Regions from separate parts of the Homo sapiens genome. Here region 1 is linked to region 2. The links come from fine-mapping of genetic effects on gene expression. Tissue or cell type: neutrophils. Region 2 holds a variant in brackets; the other region holds the start of a gene. All regions are shown on one strand. Distances are from middle to middle.

Region 1 (8,206 bases), 54 kb before region 2:
ATGGTGGCACATGCCTGTAGTCCCAGCTACTTGGCTACTCGGGAGGCTGAGGCAAGAGAATCGCTTGAGCCTGGGAGGTGGAGGTTGCAGTGAGCCAAGATCGCGCCACTGCACTCCAGCCTGGCGAAAGAATGAGACTACATCTCTAAATAAATAAATAAATAAATAAATAAATAAATAAATAAATAAATAAATGAACTGCTATCCTTGTCTCCTAAACCTCTTCTTCCCACAGCCTTCCCTACATAAGTTAACAGCCACTCCATCTTCCAGCTGCTCCAGGCCAAATCCCCAGAGTGACCCCTGACTCCTCTATTTCACGCCCCACTTCCAATCCATAGGGAAATCCCACTGGCTTCACCTTCCAGGACCTGACCGCGCCTCACCTCCATTGCTACCTCCCCGTCCTAGTGGCCAAAAGCTTGGATCTGGATTATGGCAAGAGCCTGCTCTCTGGCCTCCCAGCTTCTGTCCTTGCTCCCTGAAGTCTATTTGCAGCACAGCAGCCAGAGTGGCCTTATTAAAACAGAGGTCAGGGCTGGGCATGGTGGCTCATGCCTGTAATCCCGGCACTTTGGGAGGCAGAGGCAGGCAAATCGCTTTGAGCCCAGGAATTAGAGACTAGCCTGGGCAACATGGTGAAACCCCATCTCTACTAAAAATACAAAAATTAGCTGGGTGTGGTGGCGCATGCCCGTAGTTCCAGCTACTCGGGAGGCTGAGGCAGGGGAATCACTTGAACCTGGGAGGCGGAGGTTGCAGTAAGCCGAGATCATGCCACTGCACTCTAGCCTGGGCGGCAGAGCGAGACTCTGACTCAAAAAAAGTTAAAACAAAATGAAACAAAAAAACAGAGGTCAGATCATGCCATTCTTGTTCACCCAGAGCCAAAGTCCTCACCATGGCCCTGCTAGACCCTCTATCACCCAGTAGCCCTTGACGCCTGCCTCCTCCAGCCTCGTGTATGACTCTCCCCCTCCCTCACTCTCAGAGGCACCACTGGTTCCTGGCTATTAGTCCCTGGTACTCTCCTACCTCAAGGCCTGTGTAATTGCTGTCCTCCTTTCTGGAATGGTCTTTCTCCAAATAGCCCCATGATTCACTCCCGTACCCCTCTCAGGGGCCTCTTTGAATGTCACCTCTCAAGAGGCTTTCCCAGATCACTCTATGGACAACTGTCACCTCCTCCCTTGCCTCCGTGCTCCCAGGTCCCGATCCACTTCTCTTGCTTTATTTTTCTCCATGGCTCTTAGTGCTCCTCACATCCTCACTCCACTAACACGAAAGATCCCTGAGGACAGATGTTTTTGTCTACCATCGTTCTCTGGTATAATCCAGAGCCCAGAACAGTGCTCAATGAATGTAATAAAACCCTGGAATAATGAGACCCTGGAATAGTGTAATTCAGAGGTAAGTTGCCTGTTTCCAATCCTTGGCCCAGGTCCCGTTCTCATGTGGTTACATGGCCAGCACCTTCCCAGCAATGGATTTTCTGGGTCCTGCCTCTGGGCCTGATGGCTGGGCTTAGGGCTGCTCAAGGGTGGGGGCCAGGGGACGGGGCTGCGGGCTTACAGGATGCAAGCCATCTCCTCGTGCAGGTCCTGCAGTGACCGCAGCAGGCCGGGCAGCAGGAGCTGGTGGTGGTGCTGGTGGTGTAGCTGCGCAGCCCGCACGCCCAGCACATAGCGGTTGTGGTGAGCAAAGAGCTTCCACAGGCTGCGCACATACTTGTCCTTAGCCTTGTCACGGTCCTTGTCTGCCAGAAGGGGGGCAAGGGGTATAGATGACAGCATGGAGGCCCAGGCAGCCCCCACTCTCTGGGTACCCAAGGACAGGTCAGCACTGGCTTCGGATTCCCTCCCTGCCAGCAAGGGAAGCCACGAACCTTTGCTGGCCTCCTGGTACTTGCGCTTGGCTTGGGCACTGTCCCGTGCCAGAGCTCGGTACTGGCTCTTCAGCTTCTCAATGTCCTGGCTGTGGGTCTAGGGAGAGAGGAGAGGCCAGTGTGGGGCAGCAGGTCCCCAGTTGTGGAAGATTCTTGCCTGGGGTGAAGCCCTGGAAAGGTCCTGTCGTCAGGCAAGGAGCACCTGGAGACTTCTGGGAAAGCTGGCTGCTGACGTGAGAGTCAAAGATCAGAGAGCCTGTTAAAGACAGACCCCTTGGGGAGGCAAAGAGGTAGACTACAGGCTACAATGGTCCCTCCTTGGACTGACAGTGGTAGCCTGGTGGCAGGCAGGGCCAGTTGCAGGTGTGCACGGCCTGTGCAGTCACACGGGGCTCCACATGTAGAAGGGCCCTGTGCTTGGTTTCATTCTCCATTATTGCCACCTGGAAATTCCTAGCAATCTTTTAACAAAGACCCCCACAATTTCACTTTGCACTGGGTCCTGCAAATTATGTTCTTGGCAGTAGGAATAGATGACAGCCCGAGATCAGTGTTCTCGTCCCAGTTCTCCTGTTTATGTGCTGGGATATGTTGGGCAAGCGCCCAACCTCAGTTTCCCCATCTGTAACTGAGCTAGATTCCTCGACTAGATCAGTCTTTTTCTTAAAGGGCCAGATAGTAAATAAATATTTTACGCTTGTAGGCCATAGAGCCTCTGTCACAATTACTCAACTCTGTCATTGTAGTCACAGACAATATGAAAACAAAAGGGCATAGCTGTGTTCCAGCAAAACTTTATAAAAATGGGCCCACCCTTGAATCAGATGATCTTTTGGGGCGAGGAATGGGGCCAGGGTGGCCACCAGGGGCCGCTGTGGGTCCATGGCAAGGCTGGGCTCTGCACTTGAGGAAGGGGTGTGGTGCAGGGAGGGTGACCAGCACACTGAATGGGGGCACTAGGCTCCCAGATAAATAGTTCCAAATCACACAGCCTCTAGACTGAGGAGCTGGGTGGGATTCAAACCTAGGCAGGCTGACTTCACGGCCCGAATCCTCGACCTTCGGGGGGCCATGCTGCTGCCCAGTCTCTGGGGCCCTGAGAGGAGGCTGCCTAGGTCGAAGGCAAACAGACTGACCCTCATTCCTCTCCCTGACTCTCAGAACCCAGAGCCAGATGGCACAGTGTGGAGGCGAGTACCGATTCTGAGCTTCTCCCAGGCACGTGACCGGTCACTCATCCTTACACTCCCAGCACTTTGCCCAGGCACAGAAAAAGCACAGAGAGGCCTTGCTGCAAGCCAGCTCAACGTAGGGGAAGGAAGAGAGGAAGCTGCATCAAGGTTAGAGCAAGCCAGGCCTGCGGTCAGGGACTTACACTTCCCCAGTGAATCCAGGGCCTCTTGTGCAAAACAACCCCTTCGAGGCTCAAAATTTAGACAGAAATGACCGAAGCCCCAGTGCTGCCCGCTCACCTTGGTGAGCTCCTGCTGCAGCTGCTGCCACTGCTCGCTGTAGGTCTTGCGAAGCTGCTGCCGTTCCCGGATGAGCAGGCTCAGCTTGCTCAGGGGCCCTGAGTTCAGATCCTCTGCGTGCTGCCGCAGCAAGCGGCTCAGGCCCTCAGTTTGGCTGGTGATCTCAGCCCAGGACTATACAGCACAGATGGGGGAGGCAGGGAGGGGGGCACAATGGCTCCCAAGCATTGGCCTGCCAGATCTCCAGCCACTGCCCCAGAGGGCCCCCAGGAGAGGAAGGAGAAGGCAGATACAGCCAGCACCCACCAGAGTCCCATAGAGACCCACCTGACTGATGGGGCTGTCAGGGCTGATGGCCCGGCTCTGGCCCCCACTGTCCTGCAGGGACATGTGGTGAAGCAGTCCTGCATACTCCCTGTCACTCTTGACCCGCTGGGCCATCCACTTTCTCATGCCCTCCAGTAGACGAAGCTCGGCCTCCTGCATTTGCTGCAGGACCCCGTGGCCCTGGGGGCTGCACAGCTCGGAAGAGAAGCCCATAGTGCTGTTCTGGGGACAGAAAAGGGGCCATCCCTGGAGGCAAGGCAGCAGCTGGAGACGGAGGCATGGGACGAGGAGACTGGGGACTGTAGGGTCAGGATGGACTGCAGACGGGGAGGAGGTGGGGTCCTGCCTCGCTCACACGCAGCCATGGGTACCCAGCAGCAGCCTGGCCTGGGGACTGGCCCTCATTGCTTCCTTAGCGTCAGGGTCTCCTCCGCACGTTCGGGAACAGGAGCCAACCTGGAGCCTCCCTCCCCAGGCCCTTCCACCCACCACCCCTTACAGGGACACCCTTGCCCAGGTCCTCGACAGGCCAAGCCTGCCCCAGCTGAAGCCTCAGGCGCCCACAGCCTGAGCCCTGCCCCTGCGGCCATCCCCGCCCTTCCGCGGCCCCTACCCCCACCTGGGTGGGTCTCTGGCCCTCGGAACGCCTGCTCTGCCCCTGCCTGCCGCGCCCCCAGCTCCCACCGCTCCTCCAGGCCCCGGGGCTAGAGGTACCCGCACGGGCAGCTGCTCCTGGGACGGCCTCGGACCGACTCAGGCCCGGTGCGGACCCCGGCCAGTTCCTGATTCCGCGCTTCCTCCTCCCGCGGTTTCAGTTGGCCCAGGCCCCGGGGCGGGCCTGTGGAGGGGAAGGGGCGGGCGGGACCGGCCCGACCGCCCCGACGCCTGCCAGCCCCCCTGCTCCGCGCTGGGCCGCAGCCTCTAGCCGGCCGCACGGCCACGGAAACGGAAGGGAGGAGGGGGCCGGGAAAGAATGGCCCAGCCAAGAGCCGCCCGCGCCCCGCAGGCCCCAGGGCCCGGCAGCGCCCCGGGAACACCGGGAAGGGGCGCAAGGTGGGGGTCAGGAGGGGGAGCCCAGGGCGAGGCCCCAGGCAGATGCTGGGCCCAGGGAAGCCCAGGGTGTCCGCGGGTACTGAGGGGAGGCGCGCAGTCCTAGCACCAGGCCAGGGCCACCGCAGAAGAGAAAGAGGGAACCCTGGTCCCAGCCCTCCCCACCTCACGGAATTCCCTAAGGAGAGGCTCAGGCGCCAGCTTCCATTTGAATAAAATTTCCAAGTAAATATCCCGAACAGAGACTGCTTCTCGGATACAGATCCTAGTGGTTTTGTCCCCATCCTCCTACCCCCAGGCAGGGGCTTCCTGTCCCAAGGGAGACCTGGGGAAATCAAGGGGCAGGGGTTGGGGAGCGGACAGGCGTGGAGTTTTCCATTTGGGACTCAGGCTCCCCACAAGAAGTCATCTTGATTCAGTCAGGCCTCCCTCCACCTTAGGCCTCAGCCCTATAGCCTGTGGCGACCAGATCACTTCAGCCCAGGAAGACACAATAGGCCCAGTTCTTCACACTGCTGGAAACCAGGACTTTGGGAGTTTAGTGCTCAGCTCCTGAGGACCAGGGGTCACCAGCCCCACCCCAGGGGCACCAGCTCCTCCACTAGGGGCTGGCGCATCCTCCCGCCCCTTGGAGGACTTTGGCCTTCTGACTTGGGCCCACATCCAGGCAGGCAGGCCACTGTGTAGGCCTAACTGGCCCCCTATCCTCAGCTGCGATGCAGGAGCAACGGTACCACACTGGAGACTGGGCCTGGTTTGCATAGTCTGCACGTTTAATCACTTTAAAACCTCTAACATTATCTCATGTCCATTAAATAGAACCAGCAATGCTGGGCCTGTTTAAATTACAAGAAAAAAATCACTGTGCACCAACCCAGCATCTTACAAAACCAGCCGGGCTGGCCACGAGGGCAGGGGGATGGGAGAGGAGGGGGCACCCCTGGGCAGATGGCTGGGTACCAGGAATGGCTAGGGTAGAAAAGAAAAGGGGACTCCCAGATGGGAGGGGACTGATTGTCCTAATGGGAGGGGTGCAAAAGGCACGTCAGAAGAGGAGGTTTGAGGGGGGCATGACAGGTCAGTGCTTTCTCCACCAGGGCACAGTGTTGGGGGGGCTCAGTGCCACCACCTGCCCACCTCTGGCACTTGGAGAGCCAGTGACCTATGAACCCCCGGCATGGCGAGCCCCACTTGAAACACAGATGTCAGCCTGCCCCTCCCACTGGGACCCCCTTTCCTTGAGCCCGCCTGGCTGGCCCGCCTCTTCAGGACTTGGGGCTCAACTATTCCTCACTCCTCAGCAACATGCTGCAGCCCCCACACCTCAGGGCCAGGGCAGCCAGGGAGGAGCAGGGCGGACGGTGGGTGTGAGAACGTGGGTAGTCCAGCTGCTACCCCCATTAAAAATACAAAAACAAATCATCAGCATCTAAAGTGAAATAATCACAAAGTGAAAATATATCCTCAAACAGCCCCTGAGATCCCCACAGGGGAAAGCAGCATCGGGTGGGAGGCCAGAGAGGCCGGCTGGGCCAGCGCCCCTCCCCACCACCCACCCAGGGGCTCCAGGTCTGTGAGTGCCAACAGCCCAGGCAGCCCGGGCTCAGAAAACAGGGACTTGGGCCCTGACGGGAGAGGCGGGTGCAAGAGAGGGGAGGGTGGTCAGGACACCAGCACAGGGTTCAGCCAGAGCTTCGGCCTTGGCTGCGCCAGCCTGGTGGCCAGTGGTGGTGGAGGCACGGAGCACAGGGGTGGGTCATGGGACACAGGCCACAGGCCACATGCCACGTGCACACCTGGAGGCACCTGCCTTGCCTTGGTCCCTTCCTATGATGGCTGCTGCCGCCAAGACTCACCAGAGCTGGGGGACAGGGTGGAGGGTGCAGAAGCCCTTGGAGAGGTGGCCTCCTCCCTCAGATATCTCCTAGGCCAGCCCCCGACTGCCTGGATGGGACCATTATTGCTTTAGAGGGACAGGGAAGGGCAAGAGCTGCGGCCTGGGTCAGGAATCCCAACAAGCAAGGGCTGCCCCTCTTCACTCCGCAGGAACTCTGGCTGGGGCCGGGGCCGGGGCAAGCTGCCCTAAAGGTTTCACTCCTTTCTCCACATGGAAGGGGTGCTGAGGGTGGGGTACGGCCCTCCCCACGCCCCAGCTGGTCCTGGGCCCACCTCAGGTGGCCAGGTGGGCCCGAGGGTAGGATGGGAAGCAGTCTCCACCCCTCTTGCCTCCCAGCTGGGGTCCAAACCCAGTCCCAAGATAAAAAAATACTTTGGTGAATTAAAAAGTGCCCAAGGAGGGGATTGGCTTGAGGGGGTGGGCAGTGGGCTCATCAGAGGGCGCTCTGGTCTTTGATAAAGGCGGTCCTCTCGCCCCGGCCCTCGTCCTCTTCTGAGTCAGACGGGCACTCCTCCTGCCAGGCTTCAGGGGGCAGCCCCTTGTAGGAGATGAGGCCACGGTCCATGGTGTACACCTTCACCCCCCGAAAACTAAAGCCAGAGCGCAGCTGCAGGACCAGGAAGACAGTGACGAAGACCAGCACGATGAAGGCGCAGCTGAGGCCGGCCACCACCTCAGGCAGGTGTGAGGGCAGCAGCCCTGCCCGCAGCCGTTGCCCCGCCTCCACCTCCGGGGGCAGCCGAGGTGGCTGCTGCTGTGGCGGGGACTCTCGGCTGCTCTGGCTTTGCCGGGAGCAAGTCTGCTCCACAGGGTCCAAGGAGGCGTGGCTGGGGCAGCTGAGGCAGTCTGTCAGGGCCGGCCCCTGGCATGTGGCACATGAGGCGTGGCAGGGGGCGCAGACGCTGGCCCGGATGGTCTCCACGTCATTCTCGGTGCTATAGTGCGTATCGAGGACTTGGGGGGCGAACCCTGGAGGGCAGTGCTGGACACAGCTCTTCTGGTGCAGGGAGAAGCCTTCCTCGCACACTGCCGGCGTGGGAGAGAGGGCAAGTGTGTGTCAGCTAAACAGACTGTAGCCCCAGGACCACAGCAGCCCCAAGCCAAGTCACCACATCCCCAGGATCCTCCAGCCCCAGGACTGTGGTCATCCCAAGAGCCCCAGGGGCCCTAGGTCTCTTGAGACTTTTTTCTGTTAGAGCTGGGCTTCAGGACAGGCACCCGCCTTACCCCCAGACTCAGGCCCCCAAAGCCCAACAGCACCCACTACTGACCCACACAGGCCTGACTGGACGTGAGGGTCTTGCAGCCACTGCTTTCTGGAGGTACGGGCAGCCCCTCAGGGGCGGTGCCATAGAGTACGAGGGTGAACTTGGTCAGCGTCCCTGTTCCAGAGCGGGGAGGAGGCAAGAGTTAAGACAGTGCTGGCACCACACCCAGTGCTCGAGATCCTGCCAGCCCTCCACCTCGTACCCCTACCCCTCAAGTGCCCCCAGTACCATAGTTGTTGGCTTCGCTGGTGTTTTCAATCTCTAGGACCCACTCGCCAGAGGGATCCTCATCCCAGGAATGAGTTGT
Region 2 (8,206 bases):
CTCAGAAAGTGATACCCCAGACTGGGGCTCTGACATGCTGAGGACTGCAAAGCTGCCTAACCTTGTCTTGTACCCTCCCTACCCCCGAGTGGAGGGAGGGACTCTTCCTGGAATTCCTTATCTGACTAAGAAAGTTTCTTTCCAAAAGAATTGCAAAACCAGGTACAGCAGCATGCACCTATAATCCCAGCTATTTAGGAGGTTGAGACTGGAGGATCACTTGAGCCCAGGAGTTTGAGACCAGACCAGGCAACATAGGGAGACTCCGATCTCAAAAAACAACAACAATAAAAGAATTGTGGTTGTCTCGGCCGGGCGCAGTGGCTCATGCCTGTAATCCCAGCACTTTGGGAGGCCGAGGCGAGTGGATCACCTGAGGTAAAGAGTGTTTGAGACAAGCCTGGCCAACATGGTGAAACCCCATCTCTACTGAAAATACAAAAAATTAGCCGAGAATGGTGGCACGTGCCTGTAGTTCCAGCTACTCGGGAGGCTGAGGCAAGAGAATTGCTTGAACCTGGGAGGCGGAGGTTGCAGTGAGCCGAGATCGCACCATTGCACTCCAGCCTGGGCAACAAGAGTGAAACTCTGTCTCAGAACGAACAAACAAACAAACAAATCCAACTTTTGTTCCTTTGCAGTTCCGCCCTCACCTTCCCATAACTTGTCCCACTCAGCTCCCAGTCATTTGCTAACCACTGTCTGAGCACTGAGCCTATTCATTTCTCCATTTTTCCTCTCCTCAACCTTCTGGCCCCTCTTTGAGTTCATATTTTGCATGTCTCATGTGCATGTAATAAGCCTGTTCTTTTTTCTCTTGTTAACTTGATTTTTGTAATAGAGGTGCCGGTCATGACCCTTTACATGGGGAGAAAAGGGATCACCCTCCTTCTGCCCCTGCAGTTCAGAGAAAGGTAAGTCCAAACAATTTTAGATTAGATTGCACCGTACCAGTTCTATTTTAAACTAAATATATTCTATTTTACTTGAGTTTAACAGAAAAAAAAAAAAAGGCAGATCAGGTGCTATGGTTCACACCTGTAATCCCAGCACTTTGGGAGAACAAGGTGAGAGGATCCCAGGAGCTTGAGACCAGCCTGGGCAACATAGTGAGACCCCTGTCTCTACAAAAAAATTTTTAAAAACTAGCTGGGTGTCAGCTGCGTGTGGTGGTTCACACCTGTAATCCCGGCACTTTGGGAGGCCGAGCCAGGCAGATCACGAGGTCGGGAGTTCGAGACCAGCCTGGCCAATATGGTGAAACCCCGTCTCCACTAAAAATACAAAAAATTAGCTGGGCATGGTGGTGCGCACCTGTAGTCCCAGCTACTCAGGAGGCTGAAGCAGAAGAATCGCTTGAACCCGGGAGGCGGAGGTTGCGGTGAGCCGAGATTGTGCCACTGGACTCCAGCCTGGGTGACAGAGCCAGACTCCATCTCGAAACAAACAAACAAACAAACAAACAAACAGACAAACTAGCTGGGTGTGGGAACATGTGCCGCCTGTAATCCTAGCTACTCAGGAGGCTGAGGCGGAAGGATCACTTAAGCCCAGAAGTTCAGAGCTGCAGTGAGCCATGATTGTGCCACTGCACTCCAATCTGGGCAACAGAGTGAGACCCTGTATCTGAAAAAAAAAAAAAAAAAAGGCAAAAAAACCCAGAAAACTTGCTGAATCTTAGATAAATATTTACTTTCCACAAGAGCTATTACTTCATAATGAATTCCTCATGGTTAAGAAAAAAGATTATGAAATTAATTAAGACATTGGAGTCTTGGGGTAAAAACTCAGATGTTTCACTTTGAGCAAGATCAGTCATTTCTTGCGATAAAAAAGGCGACCACTCCCCTCAAACATCCTCCCTCTTCCTCTTGCCCACCCCAGCTCTGATTTTGATGCTGATATTTTTACTTTGTCAAGGTTTATTTATTTTTATTTTTATTTTATTTTATTTATTTATTTTTGAGACAGAGTCTAGCTCTGTCACCCAGGCTGGAGTGCAGTGGCGTGATCTCAGCTCACTGCAACCTCTGCCTCCCAGGTTCAGTCTGGTCTCAAACTCCTGACCTCAGGTGATCCACCTGCCTTGGCCTCCCAAAGTGCTGGGATTACAGGTGTGAGCCACCACGCTCAGATTTTGTCAAGGTTTGTAACACTTTTACTTTAAAACCATAATTCTCCCAGTATTTAGTCTTTTTTTTTTTCTTTTTTGAGAAGGAGTTTCACTCTTTCTGCCTGCAACTTCTGCCTCCCGGGTTCAAGTGATTCTCTTGCTTCAGCCTCCTGAGTAGCTGAGATTACAGGCGCACGCCACCACGCCCAGCTAATTTTGTATTTTTAGTAGAGATGGGGTTTCACCATGTTGGCCAGGCTGGTCTTGAACTCCTGACCTCCAGTAATCCACCCACCTCAGCCTCCCAAAGTGCTGGAATTATAGGCGTGAGCCACCATGTCTGGCCGCCTTTTTTTTTTTTTTTTTTTTGAGATGGGGTCTTGCTCTGTCGCTCAGGCTGGAGTGCAATGGTGTGATCTCAGCTTACTCTAACCTCTGCCTCCCGGATTCAAGTGATTCTCCCTACTCAACCACCCCAGTAGCTGGGATTACAGGCACTGGCCATCATGCCTGGCTAATTTTTGTATTTTTGTACACAGAGTTTCGCCATGTTGTCCAGGCTGGTCTCAAACTCCTGAGCTCAAGTGATCCACCCATCCTGGCCTCTCAAAATGTTGGGATTACAGGCATGAGCCACCATGCCTGGCTATCAGCATTTAGCCTTATAATGAAATTGAAATAGATTCCATTCCATTCTTTTTTTTTTTTTTTTTTTTTGAAGCAGAGTTTTGCTCTTGTTGCCCAGCCTGGAGTGCAGTGGTGTGATCTTGGTTCACTGCAACCTCTGCCTCCCGGGTTCAAGTGATTCTCCTGCCTCAGCCTCCCAAGTAGCTGGAATTACAGGCATGCACCACCACGCCTGGATAATTTTTGTATTTTTATTTTTAATGTATTTATTTATTTTTGAGATGGAGTTTTGCTCTTCTTGCCCAGGCTGGAGTGCAATGGCGCGATCTCCGCTCACGGCAACCCCTGCCTCTGGGGTTCAAGCGATTCTCCTGCCTCAGCCTCCTCAGTAGCTAGGATTACAGGCATGCGCCACCACGCCCGGCTAATTTTGCATTTTTAGTAGAGAGGGGGTTTCTCCATGTTGGTCAGGCTGGTCTTGAACTCCTGACCTCAGGTGATCTGCCCGCCTCAACCTCCCAAAGTGCTGGGATTACAGGCTTAAGCCACCACACCCGGCCTTCCATTCCATTCTTTAATGACATTTTGTCCAGGTGCCTGAAGAGTTTTTTCTTTATCCTTAAAGTTCAGTAACTTGGCCGGGCGCAGTGGCACATGCCTGTAATCCTAGCACTTTGGGAGGCCGAGGCGGGCTGATCACCTGAGGTCGGGAGTTCGAAACCTGCCTGACCAACATGGAGAAACCCTGTCTCTGCTAAAAATACAAAAATAGCTGGGCATGGTGGCACATGCTTGTAATCCCAGCTACTCGGGAGGCTGAGGCAGGAGAATCGCTTGAATCGGGGAGGCAGAGGTGGTGGTGAGCTGAGATCTTGCCATTGCACTCCAGCCTGGCAACAAGAGCGAAACTCTGTCTTGAAAAAAAAAAAAAAAAAAGTTCACTAACTCAGCCAGTATGTTCCTATGTTGGTCATTGTGAATTTGCTTCCCTGGAGTAGTCATGCCCTCGCAGTCTGTAGAGTTGGTTCTTCGTTTCAGGAAGACTTTCTCTAAATAGCTTTTTGTTTCAGTTGTTGGATAATCTACTTCAGGGAGTGCAGTCACCCTGATGTTGGAAGGTCTGGGACCCATAATGGTCATTTTCTCTCTAATTGTTTTAATTTGTCTTTTTCTCTAAATTCACTGCAATTATTTCAAGTTTCTCTCCCACACTATTCCCTTGCTTTTCAGATGCATGTACTATGTTGTAACTCTGTTTTTAGATGTGTCATGGTCCTGTTTTGGTTAATGCGTTTCCTCCCCTCTGCAGTTTCTTTGCATTTCCTGATATATATATTTTTTTTGTCATCTCTCCTTTTTTTCTTTTCTTTGAGACAGAGTCTCGCTCTGTCACCAAGGCTGGAGTGCAGTGGTGCAATCTTGGCTCACTGCAACCTCTGCCTCCTGGGTTCACACCATTCTCCTGCCTCAGCCTCCTGAGTAGCTGGGATTACAGGCGCCCGCCACCACACCCGCCTAATTTTTGTATTTTTAGTAGAAACAGGGTTTCACCATGTTGGCCAGGATGGTCTCAAACTCCTGGCCTCAGGTGATCTGTCCGCCTTGGCCTCCCAAAGTGTTGGGATTACAGGCGTGAGCCACCGTGCCTGGCCTGTCATCTCTTCTTTGTGCTCTTTTCATTCAACTTTTTTTTTTTTTTT[TA/A]AGAAATGGGGCTTCACAAGGTTGCCCAGGCTGGTCTCAAACCCCTGGGCTCAAGTGATCCTCCCACTTGGCCCCCCTAGCAGGTGGGCCTGACAGGCGCGCACCACTGCACCCGGCTCGTGCTTTTTATACCTGGTTCATATTCTCATTCACTTTTGTCTAGCGCGAAGCTATCAGTTCCAAGAAAGCCACTCAGGTCCTTGGCTCTGCTGGCTTTCAGCTGTGCCCCTGTGTGATTTCCTTCCCTTTCCTGGCACTTGCGTGTAGGGAGGCGTTGCAAGTTTTTTTCATCTTGCTCGGTTAGCTAACTCCTGACGTTTTACTTGTTCTGCTACGGGAACCTTCCTGTCTTCCCCGAAGAAGGGCAGTTTTGAGGCTGCATTGTTTTCAGTTGGGTAGCCTGAGTGCGCAGAGGTGGGTGGGAAAGTCCCCCCGGCTGAGGCCACCCTGCTGGGGGCCACAGGTCTTCTCTGTCCTGTCATCCCCTAAACATCCTGTGCCCAGCCTTCTGCCCTACTCCTCACCCCAGCAGCTGAACACGATAGCCTTGGAGGTCCCTTCTCACTCTGTCACCCAGACTGGAGTGCAGTGGCAAGATCTCGGCTCACTGCAACCTCCGCCTCCTGGGTGCAAGCAATTCTCCTGCCTCAGCCTCCTGAGTAGCTGGGACCACAAGCGTACCATCACAGCCAGCTCATTTTTGTATTTTTAGTAGAGATGGGGTTTCACCATGTTTGCCAGGATGGTCTTGGATTCCTGACCTCAGGTGATCCACCCACCTTGGCCTGTTGGCTCACTCTTTTCCCAAAAATTTGTCATTGTTGTGCATGTGGTCAGGTATTGGGGTTGGGGAGTTCGCCCCTCATTCTGCCTTCTAAAGTCTGAACTCCCCTCCTCAGGAGGCTCTGCAAAATGCCAATCTCCAGGGCCTGTCCACCCCAAGAGCAGAGGTCCGTGGGTCTGGGTGGGACCTCTCCCTCCCGCCCAAGTGATGCACCTGAGCAGGCTTGGGGTTGAGAAGTGCAGACTCATCCACCAGGAGCATTTGCATTTTACTCAAATTAAAGAAATGCAGCCCTGCTTATGTAAGTCTATATGGCACTGAAATTGAACAGTCCTGGAATGTCCAAGTGGGTGGGCGGACTTGATTATCAGCTTCCAGTGAGGGTCATTCTATTGGTGAGGCCTCGAGGCACAGAGAGGCGAAGTGACTTGCCCAAGGTCACCCAGCATGTCGGCAACAGGCAGGTTTGAAGAACTGGAAATGGTGACTCCAGACCTGGGGGCTGGGATCAGGGTGGCCCACTTCAGGGAGCAGGAAGGTCTTAAAAATTTAATTTTAATTTTTTTTTTTTTAAGACGGAGTCTTGCTCTGTCGCCCAGGCTGGAGTGCAGTGGCGCAATCTCAGCTCACTGCAACCTCCACCTTCTGGGTTCAAGTGATTCTCCTGCCTCAGTTTCCCAAGTAGCTGGGACTACAGGCATGTGCCACAACACCCTGCTAATTTTTTCTATTTTTAGTAGAGAAAGGGTTTCACCATGTTAGCAAGAATGTTCTCGATCCCCTGACCTCGTGATCTGCCCACCTCGGCCTCCCAAAGTGCTGAGATTATAGGCATAAGCCACTGCACCAGGCTAAATTTTAATATTTTTTTTTGAGACAGAGTTCACTCTGTCCCCCAGGCTGGAGTGCAGTGGCATGATCTCGGTTTGCTGCAACCTCCACTTCCTGGGTTCAAGCAATTCGCGTGCCTCAGCCTCTCGAGTAGCTGGGACTACAGGCATGTACCACCACGCTCGGCTAATTTTGTATTTTTAGTAGAGATAAGGTTTCACCATGTTGGCCAGGCTGGTCTCTAACTCCTGATCTCTAGTGATCCGCCGGCCTCGGCCTCCCCAAGTGCTGGGATTATAGGCGCGAGCCGCCGCACCTGGCCAGGAAAGTCTTTTAGTATGAGGAACCCATTATCATTTCCGGGCCTCACAGAAGAAATGGTTGTGGCCTTCCCATGGGAACTTTTGATCTTGAACCTCACGGAGGGAGAATGGCCAGACCAACGGCTCACTGCCACTCCCAGCCCTCCCAGGAGCAGTGACCTCTCCACCTCCCCTCGTCCCCGCCCCGCCCCCATCCACGCACGGTCCAGGCAGCAGTGTCCCAGCAGAGCTGAGCCCAGTGGTGAGTGTGGGCCGGGCAGCGGGTGGAGAGGTCCAGGTAAGGAAGCAGTATCAGAAAAGGTGGGGAGACTGGGATTAGGTCGGGTCAGGCCTTTCTGGGAGGATCCCACATCCATCCGGGGAAGAAGCTACAGGCTACTTGGGCCATGACTAGCAGCAAAGCTTGGCCCTCTGACCGGGACCCTGGAGGGCAGTTGGGCCAGGATGTCCTGCTGGGGCGCCCTGGGTGTCATCAACCCCTGGCGCTGTTCTCATCTTGCCCCACTTTGCAGTGATCTGGAGGGGCCAGCCTGGTGAACATCAGGCAGATCCTCATTCGTTTCATGGCCTTGGTGATTCAGCTGCTTTGGCTGTGAAAAGGGAAAAATTACTGGACCCCTCCGAATCCCCTGCGGTTGTGAGGATGAATTCGTGTGAAGAGCTGAGCTGAGATACAAAAATCGCAAGGCCGGGCGCGGTGGCTCACACCTGTAATCCCAGCACTTTAGGAGGCCTAGCTGGGTGGATCATTTGAGGCCAGGAGTTTGAGACCAGCCTGGACAACACAGTGAAACCCCCACCTCTACTAAAAATACAAAAATCAGCCAGGCGTGGTGGCGTGCACCTGTAATCCCAGCTACTTGAGAGGCTGAGGCAGGAGAATCACTTGAACCCGGGAGGCGGAGGTTGCAGTGAGCCGATATCATGCCACTGCACTCCAGCCTGGGACGACAGAGCGAGACTCCATCTCAAAAAAAAAAATGACTTGAACCCGGAAGGCAGAGCCTGGTGCACTCTAAACACAGGAGCTCAGGAACCGCGAGAGAGCTCAAAATAGATCCATGACACAAGGTGACAAAGATAGTATTGGAATTTTTTGGTGAGGATATGGGAAAAAGGATCCAGCTGTTCACCACAAAACTGAAATTTAATTTCTCTGGGACGTTTCTGCTCTTTCCTTGCTAAACTTCCCTCCTTCTCCTTTCCCGCCTCCCACCCGGCCCCAACATCCCCTCTATTGTCCAGCCCCAGCCTTCTGCTGGCACAGCCCTGACCAAAAGCGGGGTGTGGGGGGTTGCCCACAGCGGCCCCCAAGTGTCCCTGGGACGCGTGAATCACGACAAGGGTTACAGCTTGCCAGGCTCCCACTGCACACGAAGCACATTTGGACATTGCAGACTCTGCATCTCTGTGGCAAGGACTGCCACAACCCCCTTGGACCCAGGAACCCCCAGGAGGAAGCGCTAGTACCGGGTGTCAATGTGGCTACCCAGCGCCCGCTGCTTCTGAAGCTAACCTCGAATGCGTCGCCCACATCCATGGCTTCTCTTCTGGGCGCTTCACAGTAACCGTGGAGTAAGGTGGGTAAGTTACCGCTACTCATTTTCCTTGAAATCCCATTTCTCAGGTGAGAGAGAAAAGCTCAGAGAGGCCAAGGGCTCGGGGCAGCTGTGGTGCCACGCCCAGCCCTTTGGTCTGAACTGCCCCATAGACTGCATACAGGTCCCATTGTGTCCGGACTTGGTGGGTTCTTGGTCTCACTGACTTCAAGAATGAAATCGCAGACCTTCACGGTGAGTGCTGTAGCGAGTTCTACAGTTCTTAAAG

Alleles and levels. Alleles are on the strand shown, and positions count from the first base shown. SD is a standard deviation of normalised expression in the study named.
For the expression in neutrophils of the gene that starts at base 4,439 in region 1, allele TA in region 2 goes with a lower level than allele A (moderate effect, 0.53 SD a copy in BLUEPRINT).

What was found. PIP is the estimated chance that this variant, and not a neighbour inherited with it, causes the effect.
Region 1: FES starts here. The variant in region 2 is fine-mapped to the expression of FES in neutrophils (BLUEPRINT, PIP 0.95).

The regions. Positions count from the first base shown.
Region 1 is chr15:90,880,737-90,888,942 of GRCh38, reverse strand. It overlaps FES (FES proto-oncogene, tyrosine kinase), which reads right to left and starts at 4,439. Exons shown (of 19, transcript NM_002005.4): 1 at 4,399-4,439; 2 at 3,685-3,906; 3 at 3,358-3,531; 4 at 1,886-1,982; 5 at 1,573-1,756. The coding sequence starts at 3,897. It overlaps FURIN (furin, paired basic amino acid cleaving enzyme), which reads right to left. Exons shown (of 16, transcript NM_002569.4): 14 at 8,128-8,206; 15 at 7,903-8,013; 16 at 5,486-7,657. The coding sequence ends at 7,065. RefSeq lists enhancers at 3,294-3,723, 5,261-5,390 and a silencer at 4,354-4,863.
Region 2 is chr15:90,826,733-90,834,938 of GRCh38, reverse strand. No RefSeq gene overlaps it. Among named protein-coding and RNA genes, the nearest start is that of FURIN, 38 kb to the left of the region's middle. RefSeq lists an enhancer at 4,760-4,849. The variant TA/A (reference allele first, on the strand shown) is at 4,441.